Regions from separate parts of the Homo sapiens genome. Here region 2 is linked to region 1. The links come from fine-mapping of genetic effects on gene expression. A gene starts in region 1. The other region holds a variant in brackets. All regions are shown on one strand. Distances are between the middles of the regions. Region 1 holds the start of LY9 (lymphocyte antigen 9). Region 2 overlaps LY9 (lymphocyte antigen 9).

Region 1 (14,274 bases):
ACGCCTAACGCCCACGTCTAGCAGCCTCGGGGGGCAGTGGCACTGGGCCTGGCAGGGTCCCATCGGCAGGACCCTTCCAGCTCTGCTGCGCGGCGGTGAGGTGGGGATGGCGGAGCGGTCTCCAGTGGCAGGTGGGGGCGAGGGCCTAGCCCTCCCGCACGCTCACACGTGGCTCAGCCAGGGTGCTGATGATGGACTCCAGGCCGCTGCCCTCCAGGAGTGTGCGGTGGTCACCCTCGATGACGTGGACGGACAACTTTTCAATAAATGGTGCTGGGAAAATTGAATAGTCACATGCAGAAGAATGAAGTTGAACCCCTATTTCTCATCATATAAAAAACCTCCTCAAAATCAGTTAAAAGACTTGAATGTAAGACCTGAAACTATAAAAATACTAGAAGAAAACCTAGGGAAAACTCTCCTGGACATTGGTCTGGACAAATAAATTTATGACTAAGACCTCAAAAGCACAGGTAACAAAAACAAAAATAGACAAACGGGATTTAAACTAACAAGCTTTTGCACAGCAAAAGAAATAATCAACAGAGTGAAGAGACAACGAGTTGAATGGCAGATATATTTGTAAACTATTCATCTGACAGGGAAGTAATATCCAGAACATACAAGGAACTCAAATAACTCAACAAGAAAAAACGAATAATTCTATTAAAAAGTGGGCAAAGGATACAGACATTTCTCAAAAGAAGACATACACATGACCAACAGATATATTAAAAATGCTCAATATCACCAATTATCTGAGAAATACAAATCAAAATCACAATGAGATATTATCTCACTCCAGTCAGAATGGCTGTTATTTAAACACTAACCACATGTTGGCAGGATGTGGAGAAAAGGGGAAATCTTAGACACTCTTGGTGGGGATGGAAACCAGTACAGCCACTATGCAAAACAATATGAAGATTTCTCAAAAAACTAAACATTTAATTAGCATTTGATCCAGTAATACCACTACTGGATATCTACCCAAAGGAAAAGAAAAGAAATTGATATATGCAAGGAATACCTGCATTTGTATGTTTATTGCAGCACTATTCTCAATAGCAAAGATATAGAATTAATCTGTGTCCCTTAGCGGAAGAATGGATAAAGAAAATGCAGTATACACATACATACATGTATTTATACACATCATGGAATACTAATCAGCCACAAAAGAATGAAGTCATGTCTTTTGCAGCACCATGGATGAAACTGGAGGCCATTATCCTAGCTGAAATAACTCAGAAACAGAAAGTAAAATACCACACGTTCTCACCTATAAGTGGAAGCAATGGGTACACATGGACATACAGAGTAGGAATAATGGATAGCGGAGCCTACAAGAGGTAGGAGGGTGGGAGAGGAGTGAGGGCTGAAAAATTATCTATTGAGTACAATGGTCACTCTTTGGGTGATGGGTGCACTAAAAGCCCAGACTTCCCCAGCATGCAATATGTGCATGCAATAAATCTACACTTGTACCCCCTAAATATATTTAAACAATTTAAAAATCCATAAAAAAGAATGAAATCATGTCTTTTGCAGCAATGTGGCTGAAACTGGAGGTCATTATCTTAAGTTAAATAAGCTAGGCACAAAAAGACACATATCGCATGTTCTCACTTATATGTTGGTACTAAAAATTTTGATCATGTGGAAGTGGATGGTGGAAAGATAGATAGCAGAGACTGAGAAGGGTGAGTGTGGGGAGTGGGTGGTGGGGGGATGATGAAGAGAAGTGGGTTAAAGGGTACAAACATACAGTAAGATAGAGAAAATCAATTCAATTTTTGATAGCAGAGTAGGGTGACTATACTTAACAGGAATATATTGTACTCAGGCAGCAGACACACTGAAAACTCTGACTTGATCAGTATGCACTATATACATATAACAAAATTTCACACATACCCCATAAATTTGCACAAATAAAAAAAAGAAAAGATCAAAACACAGAAGCTCTCTGGAACTCACCATAGACGAACAGGGTGAATTCCTCCTCAGTGGTGACTTCAAAATTCCTTTGGTTTATCTGGGCTTTGTAGGATCCTGCATCATTCAGAGTCAGATTGCTGATGCACAGGGAGTAACTCCACTTGGTGATGTCTAGTCGGCCCAGGTAGCTTTTGACCATAATGGTTACATTTTCTTTGGGACGTGCGAAAGCAAGAGCATTTTTGGGACCAATCCAGATGACGTTCTCAATCTCTGTGTCTACTGAGATGTTTAGGGGGAGAGTCACGGAACCCCCTAGGATCCCTGACACCACTGTTGGGGCTGAGTCCTTTCCAGAGGCTCTTAGTCCTGCAGAGATAGAAGAGGGACTTGGAGGAGCAGCTAGACTCCTTGAGCTAGCCTTCTTTCTTTCACTCTGTGAATATACATTGGGCATAAATGTCAGATGCTGAGAAATGAAATGAGATTCTTGTCCTCCTTCTTCTAGGTCAATTGCCTAGCACAGTCATTAATTCCTCCATTCCCCAAACACTGTCTCCCTTAAAAGCAGCCACAACAATCTGTGAAACAGATCTTCTGGGTTTCTGTTCCAGTAGAGGAATTAGCCTTGTGACTTTGGGTACATTTCTGAATTTTTCAGTGAATCTTATCTAAAAGATTGAAATGCTCATACCTGCACCATTTTCTTCAAGGGATATGGTAAAAATGAAATGAAAGCAGGTTGCTGCAAATTGTGAAGAGCCAATGAAGTAAAAAGGAGCATATTTTTAAAAATATGGGTGGGTAGAGGGATGGTTAGATGGGCAGGCGAGTGATAAAGCAAGCAAAGTAAAACGTTTGTGTTAGAATCTAGGTAGTAGGCCTATGAATGTTCAGGGTAAATGCTCCAACTTTTCTGAATGTTTGAGAACTCTCATAGCAGTGTCGGGAACTAAAGGAGCTTCTCCTACCTCTACCTCACCCTTATTGTCCATGGCATCTCAGATTGACTTTGGTTTGGCCAGGTTTGGGGGTGGGAATAGCTGGTGGTACTAATACAGTTCCTGATTTCCTCATCTTAGGCAAGATCATATTCCTGATAAACATTGTTACCAAGGCATCTAGGAAGCTGGTATTTGGCCAAGGCAGTTAATTTTCTTGTAGGGACCCTGTGGGTGTCTTCTGGGTGACCCTAGCTTGGATTCCCAGATTCCAGGGCTTCCGAGGCTCTGGAGAGCACTTTTGAAATTCTAGACCAAAACAGATGGGTTTGGGACCCAGACTCCACCAGGAATTCTGGGTGGGAAAATAAGTAGAAAATGTTAGAGACAAAAAAGGAGCATAAGCATAGCCTGGAGGGGCGGAAGAAAGCTGAAGCAAGCTCTGAAAACCCAGAGGATACAGAATATGCAGACACTGGAAGGAGAGAGGCTGCTTGGTGCAGGTCATGGGGGTTCTCTGCTTAGACCTCCATCAGCCAAGCACTTGCACCTTGTGGAGAGGCAGCTATGGAGCATGCAGGGCTAGGGATCCTGGACATGAGAAGGTTGGGTCAGGTGGATTCTTTAGGCAGATTCAGGCTGAGTTGATGTGAGGTTGGTTTGAGGTTTTCTAAAAGAGAGCTCTTCCCATCTGGAAGAGACTGCTTACGATTGCTATGTGTGCATTAGGTACTTTATGTAAATTATCTCATTTAATTCTCATAACTATACTATAATTAGCCCCTTTTTACAGATGAGGAGCTGAAATTTAGAGAATTTAATCCACTTCCCTGAGATTACAGGGTTGATCAGTCACAGAGTCCAGATCCTATGTCCATGATGCCCCTGGAGTAGGGAGGCCAGGAGTACTGCCCATCTGTATCCTGGAAGCCCAGGAGCTGCTGGGTCTTGACTGGGTGCATATGACTCGTTTTGACTTCAAATTTTCTTACATCAGACAAAAACCATAAACAAAAGCCTCACAGACTCTCAGTGGAGGGGGCAGGATGTGGGCCTCACAGGGCAAATCTTGTTGCAGAAGACAGTGCAATGCAGCTCCCAGTACAATGACAGGTCCCCAGTACCAGTCATTTTATTTTGAATTGCACCGTAGGACAAATAATAAAAGAGCATTCAAAGATTGCAAAACTGAATTTGACTCACCTGTCTCTTAATAGTTTCCAAAGAATGCACGTAACAGTAATTATAATAATAACAATCATAGCTTCTGCCAACTATGTGCCACTATACGTGTGTGTGTGTGTGTGTGTGTGTGTGTATAGATCATCTACAATCTGTAAGAGTGTTGCATGATGCATCCTACTAACTATATTTTACACTTAAGAAATAGAGGCCCTCATCACTAATAAATGATGGAGCAATGATTTAATTTCAGATGTTCCTGATACTAAAGTGAGAGGGGTCTTTTCACTCGACTGCCTTTTAAGTTCCTGAAATGACTCTTTGGAGATACAAAAGCATCATCCTTTCAGACCAAAAGAGTGAGATTTGAGGTCATCCTAATCAGTGGAGCCAGACCAATGGAGATGCCTCTTTGCTCTGAACTGTTTGAAATTCACTGCATTGATCATTTGCGGCTTGGATGACCTTGAATGTAGCTTATTTCAGGTTTGCTCAACACAATCAAGGAACACCCCAAAGGTTGGAGGTAAACATAAACAGCCTTGCTGCTTTCTGTGTGTTTTGATGAGCCAAGATAAAATTGAAAGTGAAAAGAGGTCAGACTGGACCTCAGCTCTGAGGTCTAGGCTCCTCGTTCACCCATATCTGCATCTAGGAGTGTTTCTAAAGCTCCCTTCAGGCACCAACTGCCAACCCCCACTGCTCTCAGATCTCTAGTGCTACCTGCACCATCATCCCTGAAGCCCTGGAGAAAGCGGGAGCACAGAAGGACAGTAGCTGCCACAGTCCCAGGTGGCTGAGATCCTCTCTGGGGTACTGGATTGGCTCTATCTGCTGGACAGTGGGGTTCCGGGCCATGCAGCGGAGAGATGTTTCCCAGGAGTTGGGCCTTGATAGGGAGGAATAAGGTTGAGGAGAAAAGGATATCCAGATAAACGCCACCTTGCCCATGGTCACCTAACCGCGTCCAGGTCCCCAGTGAAACCTCAGTAATAAAGCCAGCATATATGATAACCAAGGCAGGATACATAGAAAGAAGCTCCAGAAGTTCTCTCCATCCCTAGGAAATTGCTAGGTGGCTTCTCATCAGGGGATTTTCCTGGATCCCTCTGTGGGTTTTATCCACACCATACAGGGAACAAACTCATTATATACTTGGCATTTCTTAGGAAAATGTGAGGGCAAGAGAAATGTAGTTTGAGCCCAGAGCTATTTGAGACCGGGGCTAGAATGTTACCCCCTTCATAGTGCACGAATATGCACACATGCAAAGTAATTTCTGGCAAGGAGATGAGTTTCCCGATTTTACCAACAAGAACTGGGCTCACGCCTGTAATCCCAGCACTTCAGGTGGCTGAGCTGGGCAGATCACGAGGTCAAGAGATCGAGACCACCGTGGCCAACATAGTGAAACCCTGCCCCTACTAAAAATACAAAGATTAGCTGGGTGTGTTGGCATGCACCTGTAATCCCAGCTACTCAAGAGGCTGAGGTAGGAGAATCGCTTGAACCCAGGAGGTGGAGGTTGCAGTGAGCCGAGATTGCGCCACTTCACTCCAGCCTGGCAACAGAGTGAGACTCCGTTAAAAAAAACAAAAAACAAAAAAAAGAATCTCCCAGGCAGGGAATGCAACTGGCCTCAGAAGAACCGCAGTAGCAAGAAGTGGTGGCCATAAAGTGGACTTACCCATGAGCAGGAAGAGGAGAGAGGTCTGTAGAACAGAAGAGAATATTTGCAGCTGACTCCTCTGTGGCTTACTGGAGAAAGGCCCAGGAGCCCAGTCATCTGTGTGACTCTTTGGTGCCACCATGATGATCTATTTTCAGAACTGAGACTGAAGGAGGATGCACTTACCACAGCTTCCGCACGTGTCACAGCTTCTGCATGTGTATATGAGTGTGTGTGTGCATGTGTATGTGTATGTGTGTGTGTCTCAGAGGGAGGGTTGTTTATACAAAACACCACAGACTCCTCCCATCTGCGCAGGCAGGTAGAGGTCCCAAGTCTATTCAGGGCCTCATTTGTGACTGATGTGGAGCATCACTTGCTTTGACATCAAGGGACTTGGGTTCTAAATTTGGCTCCTAAAGGTGACTGCTAAAGATCTGTACCTCCTGGCATTCATGCCTCTGTGTAATCACCTCTTCTTTAGTGTGGCCTGGATTTAGTGACTTGCTTCAAGTGAATAGAATGTGGCAGAGATGTGGGATGGGTCACTTCTGAGATTAGGTTACAAAAAAGCTGTGACTTCCATCTTGGGTTAGCATGTGTGTGCATATGCGCTCTCTCTTTCTCTTGCCCTCTCTCCCTCTCTGTCTTTCCCACTATCTCTGTCTCCCTACCTTACACTGAGGGGAGCCAGGTATTGTTTTGTGAGATACTTTAGGGAGAGGGTTCCAAAACAAAGAACAGAGGGAGGCCCCCAGCCAACAATCGGCGAGGAGCTGATTCCTCTGGCCAACTGTCCATGAGGACTGAGGCTAGCCAAGAATCACATGAGTGAGACTGGAAGTGGATCCTCCCCAGGAGGTCCTTGAAATGACTGCAGCCCTGGCTGACACCGTGATGTTAGTTGTGTGAGTACCTTAAGCCAGAGGCACCCAGCTAAGCCATGCCCAGATTCCTTATCAAGAGAAACTGTGAGATAATAAATGTTTGGTTTTTAAATTTTTTTTCAATTTTTTATTTTTCATCAAAAATGCTTATTGTTTTTAGCTGTGAAGTTTGGGGCAATTTGTTACACAGCAACAGATAACTAATACAGTGACCCAATACATTTTCTATTTTGCTCAAGGCAGTTTGTGCTAGCTTTCTGTCACATGCAATGAAGGACTTTTAATATGGACAAAGGCATCAGGGAGACTGCAATGGGGGTGGACATCGTATGTGACAGCGTAGAGGTGACTGAGTTGAAAAGGTAGGCTGGAGAATGGCATGATTCCCTATATCCTGACTTGGGAAACTGTCTTTTTCTCCTCCTTCTTCTTGTCAGTAGCGTAATAGCTGGCCATGCTATGGTTTGTGTTTCGGGCTTCAGGTCATTTGTTTACTTAGGCTGTAACATTAAGGGGACTTGGCAGGAAAACTTGAGGCTGGCAGAATGTGTAGTTTTAGCTAATATTCGATGAAAGCTTACAGAGTGCTAGTCCATCTTCTGACACTTTAACATATTCACTCATTTGATCTTACAATAGTTTTATGAGATATCTTTTATCATCCCCATTCTATAAATGAGAAAACTGAGGTGGAGAGGGGTTAAATAGCTTACTATAAGTTTTATAGTTAGTAAGGACTTGAACCCAGGAAGTCTGGGTTCAAAGGAAGAAGGGAGAGAGAGAGAGAAACCATTAAGATAACAGGCTTATGTCCATGGAAAGCATCTTTAGAGGCTGGTCATGATCTGATGTTGCACAATATTGAAAGTGACAGAATCTCGAAAATCTTTAAATTTTGTGCACTAGGAGCGTGTCTTGTTTCACTCTAGCCTTGGTCCTGTGACTAGAACATGGGCTGTCTAGAGGGGATTGCAGGACATACGGTCAGGAGAGGTTACCAGAGCCCAGATAAAGCATCCTGTTACCAAGCTAAAGGCAACAAGAATCCAGTAGGAGTAGGAAGCTTCCTGGAGCTGCAGAGTGGAGGGAGAATGGGTGGAAGGGATGAGCCTGGGGATGAGAAGACAGGTGCGGAAGCTATTGAAGGAGTCTGGGTACAGAACATGAGAGCAGGAACAGTCTGCATGGGAGGCGAGGGCAAAGGCAGAAGGGAATTCAGAGAGATTGGTAATAATAAAAATCATTACTAACATTTATTGGGTAATTACTATGAGTGAGCCTCTGTGTTTAGAACTTTACATATGTTTTCTCCTTTAATCCTAAGATAGACCCTATTTGGATGATACTCCAATTATCCCCATTTTAGAGATGAGAAAACTGAGATTTAGGAAAGTAACATCACTGAAATGACCTCCTTTGAAGTTGTGACCATAGGAGGACACAGCCTTATAATACACAAAATCCAATTTAAGTATTATCATTTAAGTATAGTAAAACCTAAATTAATATAAATTTTGGTATGATGCATTTGTTAAGTGTGCCCTGTCCTCACATGGGGAGGGCTAATATTCTCATCAGGACAGGGAGGCAAAGGCACTAGCATTGGGAATCAGGGAGCAACATCCAGTGATGCTGGCCCCGGCGTCTCCAGTGTTGTCCTTCTCAGTATACTTCAACCACCCCAGCAAGTGGGTGTGACTGACTGGAAAATTTTTGAAATCCCTGCTACTGTCCTTGGAGTCCCGCCAGCTACAGGCCCAGAATCACCCCTGTCAACTGGGCATTGCCTCCAGGTAGCATCAGACTCCAGCCTGGGTTGAGATTTGGGTCTGGCAGCCACAACCACATACTCAGCTGTGTTGCTTCACCACCAGCCCCCAACCAACACTTCATTCACTGTGCAATTAAGACGACCCTGCATTTTACACAATTGCATTTTTTGGACTTTATTTCTAATGTTGTCTTGACTTGCAGTATATATATGCTACTACAGATTGGAAGAATATGAAAGACTGTAGAATTTTGACAAGCTCAAAGCTTTTTACACTTAGATGGAAAGACAAATATATGTTAGGAGCTAAAGAAATTCAACATCAAATCAACTGCTGCAGCCACAGTAGAGGGAAGAATTAGGGAATGTCACAGTGTTCAAGTGGAATCTAGGGATATAGGCTATGAGACCAGCCTTTTAGAGGGTAGCAACAAAACAAGCAAAAAGTGGTGCTGCCAGCTGGGCACATTGGCTCACGCCTGTAATCTCAGCACTTTGGGAGGCCGAGGTGGGCAGATCACGTGAGGTCAGGAGCTCAGGACCAGCCTGACCAATATGGAGAAACCCTGTCTCTATTAAAAATACAAAATTATTGGGAGGCGGAGGCGGGCGGATCACGATGTCAGGAGATCGAGACCATCCTGGCTAACATGGTGAAACCCCGTCTCTACTAAAAAAAAAAAACAAAAAACAAAAAAACAAAATTAGCCGGGTGTGGTGGCACGCGCCTGTAATCCCAGCTACTGGGGAGGCTGAGGAAGGAGAATCGCTTGAACCTGGGAGGCGGAGGTTGCGGTGAGCCGAGATTGTGCCATTGCACTGCAGCCTGGGCAACAAGAGCGAAACTCCACCTCAAAAAAAAAGGGGTGCTGGTAATACCATTAGTTAACATGTCAGTGATATTTCTGGTCATTAAGCAACTTTAGCTAATTGAGAAGGTACCCCAGGAAATGGCTGTAAATGGGATGACATAATTGTTTCTTTTGTGGTTATGAATCTTTCAATCCTGGGAAAATAAGGAATACAAAATAGACATGTTCAAGGTAATCAGTTAGTATTTTTTAAGTATATGTATTGTTTGAGGAAATTTAGTTCATTAAAATTGTAGTAAACTTTGTTGCCACGGTTTGAATGTATTTGTCCCTCCAAAATTCATATGTTGGAAACTTTTTTTTTTTTAATGAGATGGAGTCTCACTCTATCACCCAGGTTGGAGTGTAGTGGTGCAATCTCAGCTCACTGCAACCTTTGCCTCTTGGGTTCAAGTGATTCTCCTGCCTCAGACTCCCGAGTAGCTGGGACTACAGGCACGTGCCACCACACCTGACTAATTTTGTATTTTTAGTAGAGACAGGGTTTCACTATGTTGGCCAGGCTGGTCTCGAACTCCCAACCACAGGTAATCCACCTGCCTCGGCCTCCCAAAGTGCTGGGATTACAGGTGTGAGCCACTGTGCCTGTCCTATATGTTGGAACTTAAACCCCAAAGCGATAGTATTGAGAGGTGGGGCCTTTTGGGAAATGATTAAGTCATGAGCACTCTGCTTTCATATATGGGATTAATGCCCTTATAAAAGAGACTTCAAAGAGTTATCTGGCCCTTTCTTGCCCTTCCACTATTCTGCCATGTGAAGACAGTGTTCATCTCCTCTGGAGGATGCAGCAACAAGGCCCCACCTTGGAAGCACAGAGTGAGCCCTAACCAGACCGAGAGTCTGCTGGCACCTTGATCTTGGACTTCCCAGCTTGCAGAACCATAAGAAATAAATTTCCACTACTTATAAATTGCCCAGTTTAAGATATTTTTGTTATAGCAGCCAGAATGAACTGAGATATTTGTGTTTCTGATTTAAACTATGCAATTGATTTACATTTGTGCATTTGTGATTTTAGTTGGAAATCTTAATTTACATGAAGAATTGAATAATTTAAGACAACTTAAGAATGACCACACTTAGAAGTTTAATGTATTAGGTTTACAAGCCTTTAAGTATTTGGGAAGTTTATTTGCTGATTAAAATACTTTAAAACAAAACTAAATATATTACATTTATAAGTTAGAATAATAAGGGAATCAACTTATAAATTTGTAAAATGAGTCAAATTATTATTATTATTATTATTTTACTTTTGAGACAGGATGTTGCTCTGTGACCAAGGCTGAAGTGCAGTGGTACGATCTCGGCTCACTACAACCTTTACTTCCCTGCTCAAGCGATCCTCCAGCCTCAGCCTCCTGAGTAGCTGGGACCACAGTCATGAGCCACCATGCCCGGCTCATTTTTGTATTTCTTGTAGAGATGGGGTTTCGCCATGTTGCTCAGGCTGGTCTCGAACTCCTGAGCTCGAAGTGATCCACTTGCCTCGGCCTCCCAAAGTGCTAGGATTCCAGGTGTGAGCCACCATGCCTGGCCATGAGTTAAATCTTATTAATAGTCCTCAAGAAGGGTAGTTAAAATTTGCCTAATTTGTAAGCAGAACAGTAAGATTTGTAAGCTGAACTGAACTTAAGGCTGACTTAGGTTTTAAATTTATTTATTTAATAAATTGAATATGAGTTCTTAAAAGCAATATGGCCTATGAATAAATTTTTATGTGCAAAAACCATCTTCAAGGAAATAAATTATAAAGGAGAACTCCTAACTCTCATTGATTGGCAGGTAGTTTGCCTAGGTCACACAACTAGCAAGCAGCAGAGGCAGTATTCAAACCAGAAAGCCTCATGCCCAACACACTGTACCCAACCAGAAAGTAAAACCACCTGCATTACTTTATTTTTTATTGACATAAATTTTCTTTCCCACTAGACTGTAAGCAACACGGTTGCAGACACTTCCTTTCATCTCTGTATCCCCAGTCCTTAGCACAGAGCTTTTGTGGCACCTAGCAGGAACTCAACGAATATGCATTGAGTGAAGGAGAGAAGAGAACCCGGGGGGAACGGTATCCTGGCGTCCAGGAGGAGAGAGTATTTCAAGTGTCAAATGCCACAGGCAGTTGTATTAGCCAGGGATCTTCAGAGAAACCACACCTTGAATATATATATTGTTTCCTTTTTTCTCTTTTAATAGGAATTGGCTCACATGATCATGGAGGCTGAGAAGTCTCATGATCTGGTGACTGCAAGCTGGAGTACCAGGGAAGCTGGTGGTGTAGGTCCCGGTCTGAGTCAGAAGGCCTGAGAACTGGGAGGCTGGTAGTACAAGTGTCCTGACCCATAACCACAGGCCTGATGTCCAACAGCAAGAGGGAATGGATGTCCTAGCACCATCCTAGCCTGGGGCTTCAGGGAGGCCTTTCCCAAGGTGGTGATGACTGGAGATGGGCAATAGGAGGGTGTTAGGGTGAGGTAGATGACAGAGACTAGGGCAATCCAATCAGTAAGATGGCCTGAGGAAGTAGAGCTGCATTTACAAAAATGAGAAATCCCAAGGGGACTGCTTTAGAAGCAGTCTGTGGTGACTGGAGTCCAAGCTGTGAGACTTGGTGACAGAGTGTGGCCAGGTAGGTTGGCAAGACACAAGCCAATCATGAAGGGCCTTGTCCACAAGGACTTTGACCCCGGACTTTAGCCTTGTGGGGGTGGTACACCCCCGAGGGGTTTAAAGCAAGGCTGTGATGTCACCGGCGTTGGCTTTTAAGTAGCTCGTTCAGGCGCTTCTCATCCTTCTTTCTTTTGCGTCCGCTCATCTTCATATCTTGTGACACATAAACTACATGTGATTAAAGTGGTGACACTAAAAACAGGAACTGGTAGTAGGCTGACATTTACGCATGCATAGTCCGTCATCTGCTGCCATGTGACAAGCAGTTCTGCAGGTGCACTTTATGGCCCATTCTCTACCATGGTTGTTGCTCCTCCTTGGTCTTTTCATAGGTAAGTCCACCCCTCCACTGCCTCCCAGGCTCGTCTATTTGCTGCGTACACTGGTTTACTCTAGGAATGTGCAATTTTCATTGAGGTGCTGCCTCTATGGGAGCCAGGCTCTGTGTGTGCGTGTGTGTGTGTGTGTATGTGTGCGCACGTGCGCGTGGGTGCGTAAGTCTGTGCGCATGTGCTATAACCTCAGGTCACGCAGCTCTAGACGGTGTCCTTGTGACCCTCACATCTCTTTGACTAATGTATCACAAGGAGCCTGAGCATTTCCAGAGAGGCTGAATTGTGGAGGCATGAGATGGAGGATCAGCCACAGTCAGTTCCAAGACGCATGTAGTCTGCAGCATGTCATTTCAGTCATGTTTCCAGAGATGTCCAGGTTTTTAAAGACCTGTGGTGATGTAGTGCCTTGGGATTTGTGTTTTGTATCTGGTTCTCTTGCATCTCTTTCCCCTTCCTCCCTCTCCTGCCAGCCGCTGGGAGTCACCCTTCACCCTGAGTTGGGCCTTTCATGTCCCATAAGTGGTTTCAGTGGGGGAGCTCAAGCCTGGCACACTGGTAATTCCTGTCCCTGTGGATTCTCACTGCTCACCTCTAAGAACCTGACAGATGACAGGGGGATGGGCCTGGGACTTGGAGGCTAGGGGAACACAGATCTTGAGATATTCATGATGAGGGGACAGGTTCTGCTCTTAGTCTCCAGAGTTTCAAGCTTTCACTTTTATTCTCCATCAGGAGAAAACCAGCACGTTCTGTTCTTTTTTTTTTAATTATACTTTAAGTTTTAGGGTACATGTGCACAATGTGCAGGTTAATTACATTTGTATACATGTGACATGCTGGTGCGCTGCACCCACTAACTCGTCATCTAGCATTAGGTATATCTCCCAATGCTATCCCTCCCCCCTCCCCCCACCCCACAACAGTCCCCAGAGTGTGATGTTCCCCTTCCTGTGTCCATGTGTTCTCATTGTTCAATTCCCACCTATGAGTGAGAATATGCGGTGTTTGGTTTTTTCTTCTTGCGATAGTTTACTGAGAATGATGATTTCCAATTTCATCCATGTCCCTACAAAGAACATGAACTCATCATTTTTTATGGCTGCATAGTATTCCATGGTGTATATGTGCCACATTTTCTTAATCCAGTCTATCATTGTTGGACATTTGGGTTGGTTCCAAGTCTTTGCTATTGTGAATAGTGCCGCAGTAAACATACGTGTGCATGTGTCTTTATAGCAGCATGAATTATAGTCCTTTGGGTATATACCCAGTAATGGGATGGCTGGGTCAAATGGTATTTCTGTTTCTAGATCCCTGAGGAATCATCACACTGACTTCCACAATGGTTGAACTAGTTTACAGTCCCACCAACAGTGTAAAAGTGTTCCTGTGTCTGTTCATGTCCTTCACCCACTTTTTGATGGGGTTGTTTGTTTTTTTCTTGTAAATTTGTTTGAGTTCATTGCAGATTCTGGATATTAGTCCTTTGTCAGATGAGTATGTTGCAAAAACTTTCTCCCATTTTGTGGGTTGCCTGTTCACTCTGATGGTAGTTTCTTTTGCTGTGCAGAAGCTCTTTAGTTTAATTAGATCCCATTTGTCAATTTTGGCTTTTGTTGCCATTGCTTTTGGTGTTTTAGACATGAAGTCCTTGCCCGTGCCTATGTCCTGAATGGTAATGCCTAGGTTTTCTTCTAGGGTTTTTATGGTTTTAGGTTTAACGTTTAAGTCTTTAATCCATCTTGAATTGATTTTTGTATAAGGTGTAAGGAAGGGATCCAGTTTCAGCTTTCTACATATGGCTAGCCAGTTTTCCCAGCACCATTTATTAAATAGGGAATCCTTTCCCCATTGCTTGTTTTTGTCAGGTTTGTCAAAGATCAGATAGTTGTAGATATGCGGCGTTATTTCTGAGGGCTCTGTTCTGTTCCATTGATCTATATCTCTGTTTTGGTACCAGTACCATGCTGTTTTGGTTACTGTAGCCTTGTAGCATAGTTTGA
Region 2 (13,312 bases), 26 kb before region 1:
AGAGGCAGCAGCTGCTTTTCCTTTCAGGTGAAATTTTCATAGGTAGGACTTTCAGGAATCTCAAGATCATTCTGTTGTGGTGGTGGCACCACCTGTGAGCCAAAAATCCACAAAAGAATATGGTTAATAAAGCCTTGGAAGAGTGAGGCTGATGAAAGAGGAAGGCAAGGCCAGGCTATGACTGGTCCATCCTACAGAAGTAGAGTCATATGTGCTGGCCCAGGGATGGCGCAATCAACCAGCCTGATGCCAAGCATTTATGGAGGCTCCTAATAGGAAAGGCTGTGGGCTGGACTCTCTGCAAGGACAACACAAGACAGTTTAGTGCAGCAAATCCAGGGGATAAAAAAATGACAATGAAGGGGCTTGCCCTCACGAAGCTACTGTCAAATGATTCCAATCTCTGCCCTAGCTGGAGAAACAAAACGAACATTTATAAGAAGATAATTTAGATGGCAGAGGTTAAGTTCCAAAGTAATGGTCCAGACCATTAGTCCCCAAGCTGTTCCCAAGGGTTCTTAGGCTTCCCTGTCTGAGAGTGTTCAGGGAAGGCTCTAAAGAGCAGATAAGCTCTGTGCTGACCCAGAGGAGCGGGAGGTTGGGTACCAGCAACAGCTTGGGGATAGCATAAACCTTTGAGATGTTGTACAGAGAGGTATATCAGAAATAAGAACTAAAGTAGGTTTGAGAATTTCCAGATCAAGTAGGCAATAATGGCCTTCAGAGATCCAAAACCAGAATTCCTGGTCCTGACAATTCTGAAGACAAAAGATATAGTTGTCAAGAGTTTGGCTCAGGAAATGCAATGATTTCAACTTACACTGTAAGTGAGGTGGTTTCAGGGGTCTCAGTCTCCAGGGTAGTGTGTGTGCCTTGCAGGACTGACCAGACATGTGGTGGTCATTCTGAAACTCAGAGCAGGGACTGACTTTAAGTTTGACCGGTATTGACCCAAACACAAAGGGCCAGGCCAGAGTAGAAAGCAGCTCTGGGAATGCAGTGAACAGCACAGATTTGGCCTTAGGTTCCAAGGCAAAGTCTCTAGCTGGCTAAGCATTAGACTACTGTCTAGAAGTCAGGATGAGATGGATGATGGTTGAACCAAACCACACATCCCAACAAGTGTTTACTGAGCAAATTCTATCCATCTTTTAAGGCCCAACCCAAATTCCTTTTTCATGATGTGTTTCCTCTTTACCACAGTGCAGTGATATCCCCCACCTTCAGCTTCTGAAAAACCCTTAGGAACTGTGCATACAATTTATTAAGTAGTCAAGTAACTTTAACCCATTTACGCAGGAGGTTGCAATTTTTTGAATTTGTGCATGAGTGAAAAATCAGACCCTGGTGATGATCTTGAGCAGTAGAATATAAATAACTCCTACACGCTTAGTGTTCCAATAATGGAACACCAGGCATAAGTGCAACATATGTTTGAACTGCATGGCCACTTATATGCAGATTTTTTTTCAATAAACATCACACTGAGTGTGCCTGCCTCTCCTGCCTCCCCTTTTACCTCCTCTACCTCTTTTACCTCTACCACTCTTGAAAGAACAAGACCAACCCTTCCTCTTCCTCCTCAGCCTACTCAATGTGAAGGTGAGGATGAAGACCTTTACAATGATCCAATTCCACTTAATGAATAGTATACATATTTTATCTTCCTTATGATTTTCTTAATAATTTCTTTTCTCTAGCTTACTTTATTGTAAGAATACAGTATATAATACACGTAACATGCAAAATATGTGTTAATCAAATGTTTATGTTTTTGGTAAGGCTTCTGGTCAACAGTAGGCTGTTAGTAGTTAAGTTCTGGAGAGTCAAAGTTATAGAATGATTTTTGATTGCATGGAGTGGGGTGGGGTTGGCACTCCTAAACCCCTGAATTGTTCAAGGGTCAACTGTAGTCTTTTCTTTTTTTTTGAGATGGAGTTTTGCTCTTGTTGCCCAGGCTGGAGTGCAATGGTGTGATCTCTGCTCACCGCAACCTCCACCTCCTGGGTTCAAGCAATTCTCCTGCCTCAGCCTCCTGAGTAGCTGGGATTACAGGTGCCTGCCACCACATTCAGGTAATTTTAATATTTTTAGTAGAGATGGGGTTTTACCATGTTGGCCAGGCTGGTCTTGAACTCCTGACCTCAGGTGATCCACCTGCCTCGGCCTCCCAAAGTGCTGGGATTACAGGCATGAGCCACCACGCCCAGCCGAGAGTTTTTTAAAAAATATTTTTTTGAATATGTTATAGGGAGGGAATTTGGGGGAGATTTGAAAGCAAAAGTATGAATGGACACGATGTTTTCAGGAAAGTGAAAATGAAATGGACAGCCAGATCAAGGTGAATTATTTAAGATTACTCAGGATGATCTTAAAACGCCTCATGGTTCTTAATACTGGAACTTCCAAGTACTATCTTTGTCACCTTAGGCAAAATTAACTTCCTTGAATCTGTTTCTTTGGCTATAAAATGTGGATGACAACACTTTTCTAGAAGTATTACAAAGATCAAAGAAGAATGTGTATCAAGGTATTGTAACTGCAAAACTTCATATAAAAGCAAGTCAGTTATTATTATCATTATGATTATTTAATGATAAATTCTACCTGTAAGGGATTTTTTTTTTTTTTTAAGACATGGTCTCACTCTGTCACCCAGGCTAGATTTCAGTGGCATGATCTTGGCTCACTGCAGCCTTGAACTCCCCGGCTCAAGCGGTCCTCCCACTTAAGTGTCCTAAGTAGCTGGGACTACAGGTGTGTACCACCACAGGCCTGGGTAATTTTTTTTGAACTTTTTATAAAGACAGGGTTTCACCATGTTGCCCAGGCTGGGAATTTTTTTTTTTTTTTTTTTTTTGAGATGGAGTCTTGTTCTGTTGCCCAGGCTGGAGTGCAGTGGCACGAACTTGGCTCACTGTAAGCTCTGCCTCCTGGGTTCACGCCATTCTCCTGCCTCAGTCTCTGAGTAGTTGGAACTACAGGCGCCTGCCACCACGCCTGGCTAATTTTTTTTGTATTTTTAGTAGAGACGGAGTTTCACCATGTTAGCCAGGATGGTCTCCATCTCCTGACCTTGTGATCCACCCGCCTTGGCCTCCCAAAGTGCTGGGATTACAGGTATGAGCCACCGCGCCCGGCTGGGATTTTTTTAAACACTAGAATAAAACTAATGTACTGTAGGTGGTGGTGTATTTTCCAAAAATTCTTGTTGTTAAATTGTTAGCTAATTTTCAATGGTTTTGAGAAGTTGTCATTTAGGTAGATTAGGATTAGGGTTAGAGATAGATTTAAAAAGCTATAAAGACCCTACCTTGTTTGAGTGTATAAGCTGTCATTCAGGTCAGTGTTAAAAATAACCAACATAAGATATTATTAAATCAATTAGAAATGTTCAGCCTTTGGTCACACAGATGTCAGGAATATTTGTTTATGCATCTCTGTTGACCATGGAATGTATCTGAGGGGTGCATAGTGGGTAGAATTTAAGATCCTTAGCCATGGGAATCTCGGATTTTCAGTTCAAAGGGTCTAAGGAATAGTTCCTCACTCTGTGGGCCTTGGGATACAGAGAATGTAGTTCTCACCACCTGAGGTTTCCGTATGGAGCAGTAGATTGTGGCTGAGCTCTCTTCCTTCTGAGAAACTGGGGTCTTTCCCTGTAACACACCAACAGCAGATGAGCCCTAGTGACCACATGAGAGCTTTTCAGTTTTACCCTCAACCCTTGAGGAGAGGGGATACCCCCTGGCTTCCCATCTCACACACAGGGTGGGAGCTGCCTTAGTGCAGTGGGGACGGTGCCTCTGGTTCTCCAACACCTTCCTTATTAGTGGCCCAAGAATGAGAGCTGAGGGACAAGTCCCTCGTTCCACAGGATCCCAAGGTTTGGTAAACATGGACACAGCCATGAGTCCCTGCCCGTATGCCCCTAGTCCTGTTTCCAGGCCCCAGCCCCCAGTTTGGAGGAACTAGTCATCCAGGATCTCAGATGCCGCTAGACATGGGAGGAGGAGGAAGGTGTATTGATCAGAAGGGCTCACCTGTAAGTTGAACACTTGTGCATACA[T/C]GGTGTTCTCTCCAACCACAGACTCAACTTCCGTGACATATGGAGTGACGGGATCATAGTCTGCTTGGCCCTCAGGGGCTGGGTCATGTCCAGCGCCCTCCTGAGTGACCTGGTCAAATACCTCATATCTTCCACTGATGGGCTTGTGCACCTCAGGCCTGTCCTCATCCTCCTCAGTTGTGAGGTTGCTGTCAGAGCTGCTGTCTGAGGTGGGTGTAGGCTGTTGCCTGGCAGGCCTGAGGGGAGTGTCCAGCTTCTCATATCCTTGGGAGAGCACAGAGTATAGCGTGTGGCCAGCTGTGGGTTCTGGAACACATTGTGCAGGGCTGATAAAAGTATGCCAACCCCACCTCTCTTCTTGCTTTGCTGCAAGGCCCCAGCCTGCTCTGATGCCTGCATTAGATGAGGCCTAGAGAACCGAAGGAGATTGTTTTGTCCTGTCTTCCCTCAGGGGGTCCATTCCACTCTCCCTTCCTCCTTCCTTTCAAGCATTCATTTATTCATTCATTTGATAAATATTAAATATGACATGTGATAGACTTTAGCAACTCTCTGGCCCTGTGGGATAAACCATGCCAAGCATCATTGCAGGTACTCTGGGGAAACACAAAGGTAAATTAGACCTGGCCCTGGAGGAGCACCCTGTCTAGCTGGGGAGTCAGGTGCATGTGTAAATCAGTAATGTAAGGCCAGCTTTGCCAAGTATCCTATGGAACGTATGAGGAAAGTGCAGAGTTGAGAGGAGATGACTCTGGTTAGAGAAGCAGAGAGGAACTCATGAAAGTGGCAGAATTGAGGTGGGTCTTGAATAGGGATTCAATATTTCGATGAGTGGAAGGGTATTCTAGGTGGAGGAGGGAACAGCATGATTAGAGGCAGGTGTAAAGCCTGGAGCAGTCTCTTTTTCCGAAAGGATGATATTAAAAATACTTAACAATTGCAATGGTCAGGCCTTAGGCAATCAGCATGGGCACCTGTGAACAGTGGCATGGTGGATGCGCTGTGAGGGCCGGTGTGGCCCACTGGGTGGATATGCTGTGAACGCTGTCATGGCACACTGGGTGGATGTCAACCCTGCCTGTGGGGCACATGAAGTAGCCCATTTTGATACAGGAGTTAAGAAGAAATTACTTAGGCAGATAGTAAGGATATGGGAGTCCTTGGTCAGGCTTTTCTTTTTATTGAAAAGCAGCCCCAAATCATTTTCTAACAAAGAGCAGCCTGCAAGCTGGGAGCTTGCATGGGTGAACACCAGCAGGGACTAAGGAATAGACATTTTCAAAATGGCGGCTCCATCTTCCCTTCCCTGCCAGCCACTGTATTGAAAGGAGCAGATAAGATGGTGCCAATAAACTGGAAAATCCATTTGCATAAGAAGATTAGGGTGCGGCAACCAGCCTTTCCCAGGCACTACGTAAACGTCATGCCTTATCGAACCAATCTGTGAGCCCTAGGTAAATCAGACACCGCCTCCTCAAACTGGACTATAGAACTCAGCGCATTCACCAGCAGCCGGTCCCCACCCCTCTGAGACCCCTTCCTCTATAGAGGAAGCTGTTTCTCTTTTTCTTTTCTTCTACTTATTGAACGTCCGCTCCTAAACTCCTCCTGTGTGTCTGTGTCCTAAACTTTCCCGGCACGCGAGGACAAACCCTGAGTTTATATCTCAGACAACATAGCCCCTTCAATTTGACCTGATGCTCATATTTAGTAAGTGCCTACCGTGTGCGAGGCACAGTTCTAAATGCTTTTCATGAATAAGTTTATTTAGTCTGCCTAAAACCCCATGAAGCATAGACAATAACTATCCGTATTTATTTTTTGTAGATGAGGAAACTCGGGCACGTAAAGATTAAGTATTTTCCCGAGTAAGTGGTAGGGCCAGGATTTGACTACAGCTAGTCTTGTCCCTGATGCTCTTAACCGCTGCTCAATCCTGCCCCCTCCCGGCTGGCCCCTCTTTCTCTTTCGCTCAATACTGAGTGAAAATAGATACCTTCATTTTGGAAGGTAAGGAAACTGAGGCTTAGGGATTCATAAGGAGGAGAGCTAGGGTTTGAGCACAGGGTTATCCTACCTCAGAACCCATACACTTGACCACTTGGTTATATCGCCTTTTGAACAGACAAAGGCCATTAGGGGCTATTGAGGGTTTTAGAGAAGTCAGAGTTGAGCTTGGCAAAGTGATGAGAGGAAATAGTCTGCAAAGAAACTATTAGCATATTTTAGGAAAGAAGTAACAAGGAATGAGAATGTCTGTTAATAAGGACTGGTAAAGTAAATTAGTTAAACAAATGTGTAGAATGGAATAAATGGGAATCAGTTTTAATCTACAAACATTAATATTGCTGGGATGTACTGTTAAGATCAAAAAGCAAGGTTTAGAAAAAAAGTGTTATAGATTGCTCCCATATGTGAAGTTAAAGGAACACCCTCCCCACACAAATATGTATGAAACCTGCAAATGCATTAAAAGTTTCTGAAAGGATTCAGGTCTGTAGAAATCTCAGCAGTGGTTGTCTCTTGGGGGAGAGACTTAGAACCTGGAGATGGAATTTGGAAAGAGAACTACTTTTAACTGTATGCCATGTGAATATATGGTTTTTTTTTTTTTTTTTTAGCAAAGTTTCACTTTTTTTGCCCAGGTTGGAGTGCAATGGTGCAGTCTCAGCTCACTGCAACCTCTGCCTTCCAGGTTCAAGTGATTCTCCTGCCTCAGCCTCCAGAGTAGCTGGGATTACAGGCATGTGCCACCATGCCTGGCTAATTTTTATATTTTTGGTAGAGACGGGGTTTCACCATGTTGGCCAGGCTGGTCTTGAATTCCTGACCTCAGGTGATCTACCTGCCTCAGCCTCCCAAAGTACTGGGATTATAGGCGTGAGCCACCGTGCCCAGTCTGACTTTTGAATTAAAAAAAAAAAAAAACTATTCAATTAAACAACAAATTGGTGACAACATGAACTAAGGCAGTGGCAGTGGATCTAGGGAAGAGGAGACCTTGGAGAGGTTAAAGAAGCAGGCCTTGGAGGTTCAAGAAGGGTTCTGGGGGAGAGAAGAGGTAGGGAGGTGGTGGTGGCCCCAACATCTCTTTACCCTCTGCCCAAGGAAGGAGGGTTCAGGCAGGGGGACACCAGGGCTCTGTCCTGTCAGTAGTGAGGAGGGAGCTGATGGGGAGCTTCATAGTCCAGCCTAATTCCCTTCCTTGCCCCCTGTCTCTTGGTTATGCTTTTCCATCAGAAGAGCCCATATCGTCACATGCTCCCTGCCCAGTCCTGCCTCTGATTCCATCTCCATGGGGAATCCCTGCCATGAGGGGTGACATATAGTTTTATTTTTTATTTATTTATTTATTTTTTAAAGCAGGATTTGGTTAGAGTGAGCACAGGTTGGGGATTCCTTAGCACTCCAGAGCTCCAGAGTTTAAGGTGAAATTTTAGGACACTGTGGCATGGGAGTGGGGGAGTAAAGGCAGGCATCTCAGCTCCCCACACTAAAACCTGTCAGAGCAGTTCCATTTCCCACGATGCTCTTAGGTAATAGGTTGTACAGTCTCCTGAAGTTTAATTTTAATTAAGTTTTAAATTTTTTTCTACCACAGATGTACTGTTCCATCTGGCCTTTGTTTCTCTGTTCTCAGAATGGAGACAATAACTCCATCCTCATTGTAGTCCACATTCAAATGGTGAATGGCTAATGCCCAAGGAACCCTAGAGACCCTGGGGGACAGACTGCCTCTCCTAGCTCTGGTGACCATCTCTAAGGAGTCTATCTTGGCTTTTGTTTCTATGCTACCTTCCTTTTCAAACTTCAGTAGGCATATGAATCACTTATGGATCTTGTTAAAATACAGGTTTGGAATCAGTATTCTGGGGTGATGCCCAAGATTCCCTCCCTCCCTCCCTCCCTCCCTCCCTTCCTTCCTTCCTTCCTTTCTTTCTCTCTCTTTCTTTCTCTTTCTGTTTTTTTTTTTTTTTTTTGAGACAGAGTCTTGCCCTGTTGCCCAGACTGTAGTGCAGTGGCGTGATCTAGGCTGACTGCAACCTCCACCTCCCAGGTTAAATAGATTCTCATGCCTCAGCCTCCCGAGTAGCTGGGATTACAGGCGTGCACCACCATGCCCAGATAATTTTTTCTATTTTTAGTAGAGACAGGGTTTCACTTTGTTGGCCAGGCTGGTCTTGAACTCCTGGCCTCAAGTGATCTACCTGCCTCAGCCTCCCGAAGTGCTGGGATTACAGGTGTGAGCCACGGCACCTGGTCAGATTTTGCATTTCTAACAAGTTTCCTGGGTGATGCCCACACTGCTGGCCAGCAGACCACACTTTGAGCAGCAAGACTTTAGAACTTCCATTTGGACCAGATACCCCATAGCCTGTGTCATGGGTGATGTTACCTGGTGTATCCGCTGGGGCCTCAGCTTGGCTGGAACAGAAGGCTGGGACTGAACCTGAGAAACAAAGTTAGAGAAGGTTTATCAAGAGGGCTGTGAGGTGAGAGGTGTCTTTTATTCTGTGAGAGTCAAATGAGAAGGGGAGAGACTTCTGGGACATAGACAGGGAAAAGGCTTCAGGAAGGAGGATGAACCCTGATGAGAAGCCAGGCCTATGTGAAGGGGTGGCCAGAGTCTAGGGCTACTTTCTGCAGAGGTGGAGGCTCTGGAGCTTCCTGCCATCCCTCCAGAAGAGAGAGCTCCTCTGCCATAGCCACTGATCAGAGTAGTTTGCCTGCAATTCAGTAATTCTTCCAGGGACCCCATGTGTTCTACCCATTCTGCTCTTTTTGGCTACTACTTCATTTCCACTCCAATACTGGGATTCTAGAGGAGCTGCCAATCATAATAGTGTATCTTCTTGGCTATAGAAATTGGTCCAAGCAGCAGCCACATGACCTTAACTTGGGCCAATCAGAGCTATTTCTGACATTCTTTAAATTGGAGTTAGAGGGAAGCACATTTTCTTCCCTGTCTGGTGTCGGAGCTGTTAGTATGTGTGGGTCTGGAGCTGCCAGCTGTTGTGTTGTGGTACACTCCTCCCCTCGCTCCCACCCCTTCCCTCAGCGGGCTGCAGTAGGAAGAGTTAAGCTGACTCAAAATACACAGTAGAGATGAAAGGTGGAGAGCTCTGATGACTTTTGAGCCTCTGGTGACATTTCTCCATTATGCCAGCTCTATCCCTGCCTTCCCCACAGATTGATTATTTAAGTGAAAAAATAATAAATCACTCTCCCTGCTCCCACATGCCTTTTTTTTTCTGTCTAAGCCAGTTTGAACTGGGCTTCTATTATTTGTGAGTAAAGAGTCCCAACTGACACCCCTCCCCCATTGCTCTGAGAAGAAATAAGATGCTGGCAGGGAGGGGTAGCACGGGATTGTGTGAGGGCAGAGAAGCCTCCACAAGTCCCAGGGAAATGGCCTAGCACTGGCGGACAACATTGATCTCGGAAACTCACACCGTCCTTTTCGCTTCCAAATGCACCAGCTGAAGATCCCAACGCACAGAAGGCAAACCATCAGGAACAACCCAATCCAAAGCTTTGTGTTTCTCTCAGGTCCTTTGAGGAGGAAATGAGTGATGTTAATTCAAATAATGACAAGACACACTGGAGCAAACAATGCACAGAACATGATGGCCATCCTACCTGCCCCTTAAAATCCATGACGTTGTGGAAAGTCTTTCTTTTCATTCATTCTACAACCATTTTTCGAGCAAGCATTACTCTAGGCAAGAGGTTATAGCAGTACCTGAGGCAGACAGTCCCTGGGTAGAGAGGTTTACGGCTTGCCCAGTGTCACAGTGTTTCAAGTGTCTGACCTGAGGTTCGAGTGCAGATCCTACAGCGCCCTTAATCGCCACATTACACTGCCCCGCTGTAAATGATATGAGGGGAGTTCCAGATTCCTGTTAAGCTGGACTCTAGATCTGTCTGCCAGACACAATCTGACCCAACATTGTCAGATCCTGGGTAGACCGTACCTTTTTTCTGCTTCCTTCTACGGAAGAGCAGAAGATAGAGCTCAGGGTTCGAAACCAGCTTTTATGGTGTGACCTTGGATAAGTCCCTTATCTTTTCTGAGCCTCAGTTTCTTTATCCATATAAAGGGGAAAAACGAGAATATCTACTCTGTAGGATTGTTGCGAAGATTGTGCAAAAATGCCTGAAGGCCTAGAATAGTACTTAGCATTTATTAAGGGCCACTGGGGCTTCTTTTCTAGCTCCCACTCACGCAGCCTTTGTTCCTGTGTGGTCCACATCCCTTTCCATATCAGCTTCCTATTGGCTTTTCTCCACAAGCCTGTAACTCTGTGCTGTTCAATATGGTAGCCACAAGCTATGCATAAGCCCTTGAAGTGTGGCTAGTATTACTGAGACACCAAATTGCTTCTTTTATTTAGTTTTAGTTTAAATTTAAAAATGGCTACTCAATTCCTTCTTGAAAAACTGATAAATATGCTTGGAATAACTTGGGTGCATAAATCTATTTTTTCAACTGTAAATTTTACGAAGTCTGAATATAGATTAAACACTTTCAGTGAAAATTTAGCATCGGAATCGAGACGTGCTCTAAGTGTAAAATACATACTGGCTCTCAAAGACTTAGTACAAAATAAAATGTAGTGTCTAATGAATTTTTTTGTATTGAATACACGTTGAATAATGATATTTTGGATATATTCAGTTAAATAAAACATATTATTAAAATAACTTTATTTCTTCTTGCTTTTTCTAACGTGGCTATTAGAACATTAAAATCACATGCGTGACTCTCATATATCTGTGGAAGCATGCCACTCTAAAGGGCTCTCACCCACAGCCTCTTACTGCACTTCATAAAGAATCAGTCAGGATGCAAACTCTTGGAGGCCCCAAGGTCCTGTGACCTGAGTAAATAGAGATGGAGAGAAACCTGAACAGATGTTCTCAGAAAGAAACTGGTGGGAACTCCTGCTGACAGGGTTGCTGGCTGTGCATGTGAGGTTGGGGTGATTTTCACTGCTTCTCCATGAGACATTGAGGTGTGATTCCCCTTGGGACACAACAGCTTCCTTCTGCAGCGGGGTCCATGTGTACATGACAGTGTTTCCCCCGTCCTCCACGGAGCAGGTCAGGCTGATCCTGCAGATGCCATCCTCACTGTGCCTGAGGCTCCACGTGATTTTGGGCTTCCTCAGCCTGCCTGTGAGGAGAGAGGCAGACTCCATGTGGAATCAGGCCTGCCCCCTGAGCAGTCACCTGTCTTCATTCATTGAAAATATATTCATGAAGCTGAGTGTTGATACTGCCGGCAAAGTGCCTCCAGGAGCCACAGGAATTTTGGAGTATACCTGGCATTTTCCTCACTACTTGTGACATCTCAGACACACCTCTTTGCCTCTTGATGCTCAGGTGAGAAACAAGGGAAATGATGAAAAGTGAAGAAAGAAAGACACAACCTCATTCTATACAGTTAGTTACAGCTGTGAAAGCAAGCAAACCAATCAACACAGATGAGCGCAACACTTCCATGTGCTGTGAAGACCCTTCAAGGCTTGGCTTTGAGGCTGATTTGTTTACTTATATGAGATAAGGGATGCAGAGAGGTGAGCGCTGTACCTGACACAGAGTAAATGTTCAATAAATGTTAGCAACTTTAAAAGAAACAATAAGACTGACTCTATTTGTTTCCTGTTTATTATTTTTACTTAACCTTGTGGGTTCCTTTATATTTGAGGCATTGTGTGCAATAGGCATGGACTTGGCCGACTTGCTTCATATTTTAACAAAACCATGATAGTGACTCTTCACAGATACCTAGACATTGACAAACTCAGGCAGGGGGTATGCTGACCATGTCTGAATGGCACAAGTGAAGGAACAGGTAAACATAAACCATGCAAATTGCCAAGCCAAGCTCCTGTGAGGCCCAGGGCTGAGGAGGTAGAATGCAAATTCTGTTCCTCACCCCCAGGGGAACTGAGTGGCCCACCTTCTTGGAGGCCACAGTGTCTTTGGACACCAAGGGCTTCTCCTCAGTCTTCTCTGATTTCACCCCAGCCAACTTTGGCCTTATTCAAAATGATAATAGTTTATAAAAATGCAGGTTGGGGCCAGGTGCCATGGCTCATGCCTGTAATCCCAGCACTTTGGGAGGCTGAGGCAGCGGATCACCTGAGGTCAGGAGTTTGAGACTTGCCTGGCCAATATGGCAAAACCCTATCTCTACTAAAAGTACAAAAATTAGCTGGTTGTGGTGGCGTGTGCCTGTAGTCCCAGCTACTTGGGAGGCTGAGGCAGAAGAATCCCTTGAACTTGGTAGTCAGAGGTTGCAGTGAGCTGAGATCGTGCCACTGTACTCCAGCCTGGGTGACAGAGCATGACTCCATCTCAAAAATTTAAAAATGCAGGTTGGTGAGTTCCCAGTCCCTTTGTTTTGTTTTGTTTTGTTTTTTTTAGACGGAGTCTTGCTCTTTCTCTCAGGCTGGAGTGAAGTGGCATGATCTCGGCTCACTGAAACCTCCGCCCCTTGGGGTTCGAGCGATTTTCCTGCCTCAGCCTCTAGAGTAGCTTGGATTACAGGCGCCCACCACCGAACCCAGCTAATTTTTGTGTTTTTAGTAGAGACGGGGTTTACCATGTTGGCCAGCCTGGTCTCAAATTCCTGACCTCAGGTGATTCACCTGCCTCAGCCTCCCAAAGTACCGGGATTATAGGTGTGAGCCACCGCACCTGGCCTCCTAGTCCCTTCTGACACTCAGTGCAGAAGGACCGGGGCAAGCACCTAAAGTTGGGTGGTGGAGGCCTAACTGGCAGCCTAGAGCCAGGGGCACTTTGGCGGGTAGACTTGTCCAGCAGCTAGTCATGAGTTTGCCTCCTATGAATCAACTGGTGTGAACTGAACAGCTGTCCTAGTGGTCTGAGGCATTTCAGTATGAGGGAAGACCCTTGGAGAAGCGGAAGGTGGAGAAGGCAGCAGAGGAGAAAGCTTTCAGAGAAGGAATCTGGTGATGGGTGCCCTGCCCAGAGACTCACGGTAGATGAGCAGGGTGACATGTGTCATGCTGGTGACGCTGGAGGCCTCTGAGCACACGTAGGCATGGTAGGGGCCGGCGTCCTCTATCTTCAGCTGGCTGATCTTCAGGGAGCAGTCCTGGCTGGAGACCCACACCCTGTTCTTGTAAGGATCCCTGGATTTAATGAGTGGATCTGCCGTTGCTGCTTCTTCCCTCTCTTTGCTAATGATGGATGTGTTAAACAACCAGACAA

What was found. PIP is the estimated chance that this variant, and not a neighbour inherited with it, causes the effect. A credible set is the group of variants that fine-mapping cannot tell apart.
Region 2: its variant is the best candidate, but not a certain one, in a credible set for the expression of LY9 in blood mononuclear cells (TOPMed, PIP 0.56).

The regions. Positions count from the first base shown.
Region 1 is chr1:160,787,789-160,802,062 of GRCh38, reverse strand. LY9 (lymphocyte antigen 9) reads right to left here and starts at 5,889. Exons shown (of 10, transcript NM_002348.4): 1 at 5,752-5,889; 2 at 1,981-2,310. The coding sequence starts at 5,875. LOC105371470 (a long non-coding RNA gene) reads left to right here and starts at 12,201. Exons shown (of 3, transcript NR_188636.1): 1 at 12,201-12,268. RefSeq lists silencers at 43-292, 12,442-12,634 and enhancers at 11,722-11,841, 11,872-11,941, 11,992-12,111.
Region 2 is chr1:160,814,528-160,827,839 of GRCh38, reverse strand. LY9 (lymphocyte antigen 9) reads right to left here. Exons shown (of 10, transcript NM_002348.4): 4 at 13,079-13,312; 5 at 10,977-11,246; 6 at 9,521-9,622; 7 at 8,466-8,519; 8 at 4,044-4,375; 9 at 3,591-3,659; 10 at 1-92. The coding sequence ends at 24. Among named protein-coding and RNA genes, the nearest start is that of LY9, 25 kb to the right of the region's middle. The variant T/C (reference allele first, on the strand shown) is at 4,070.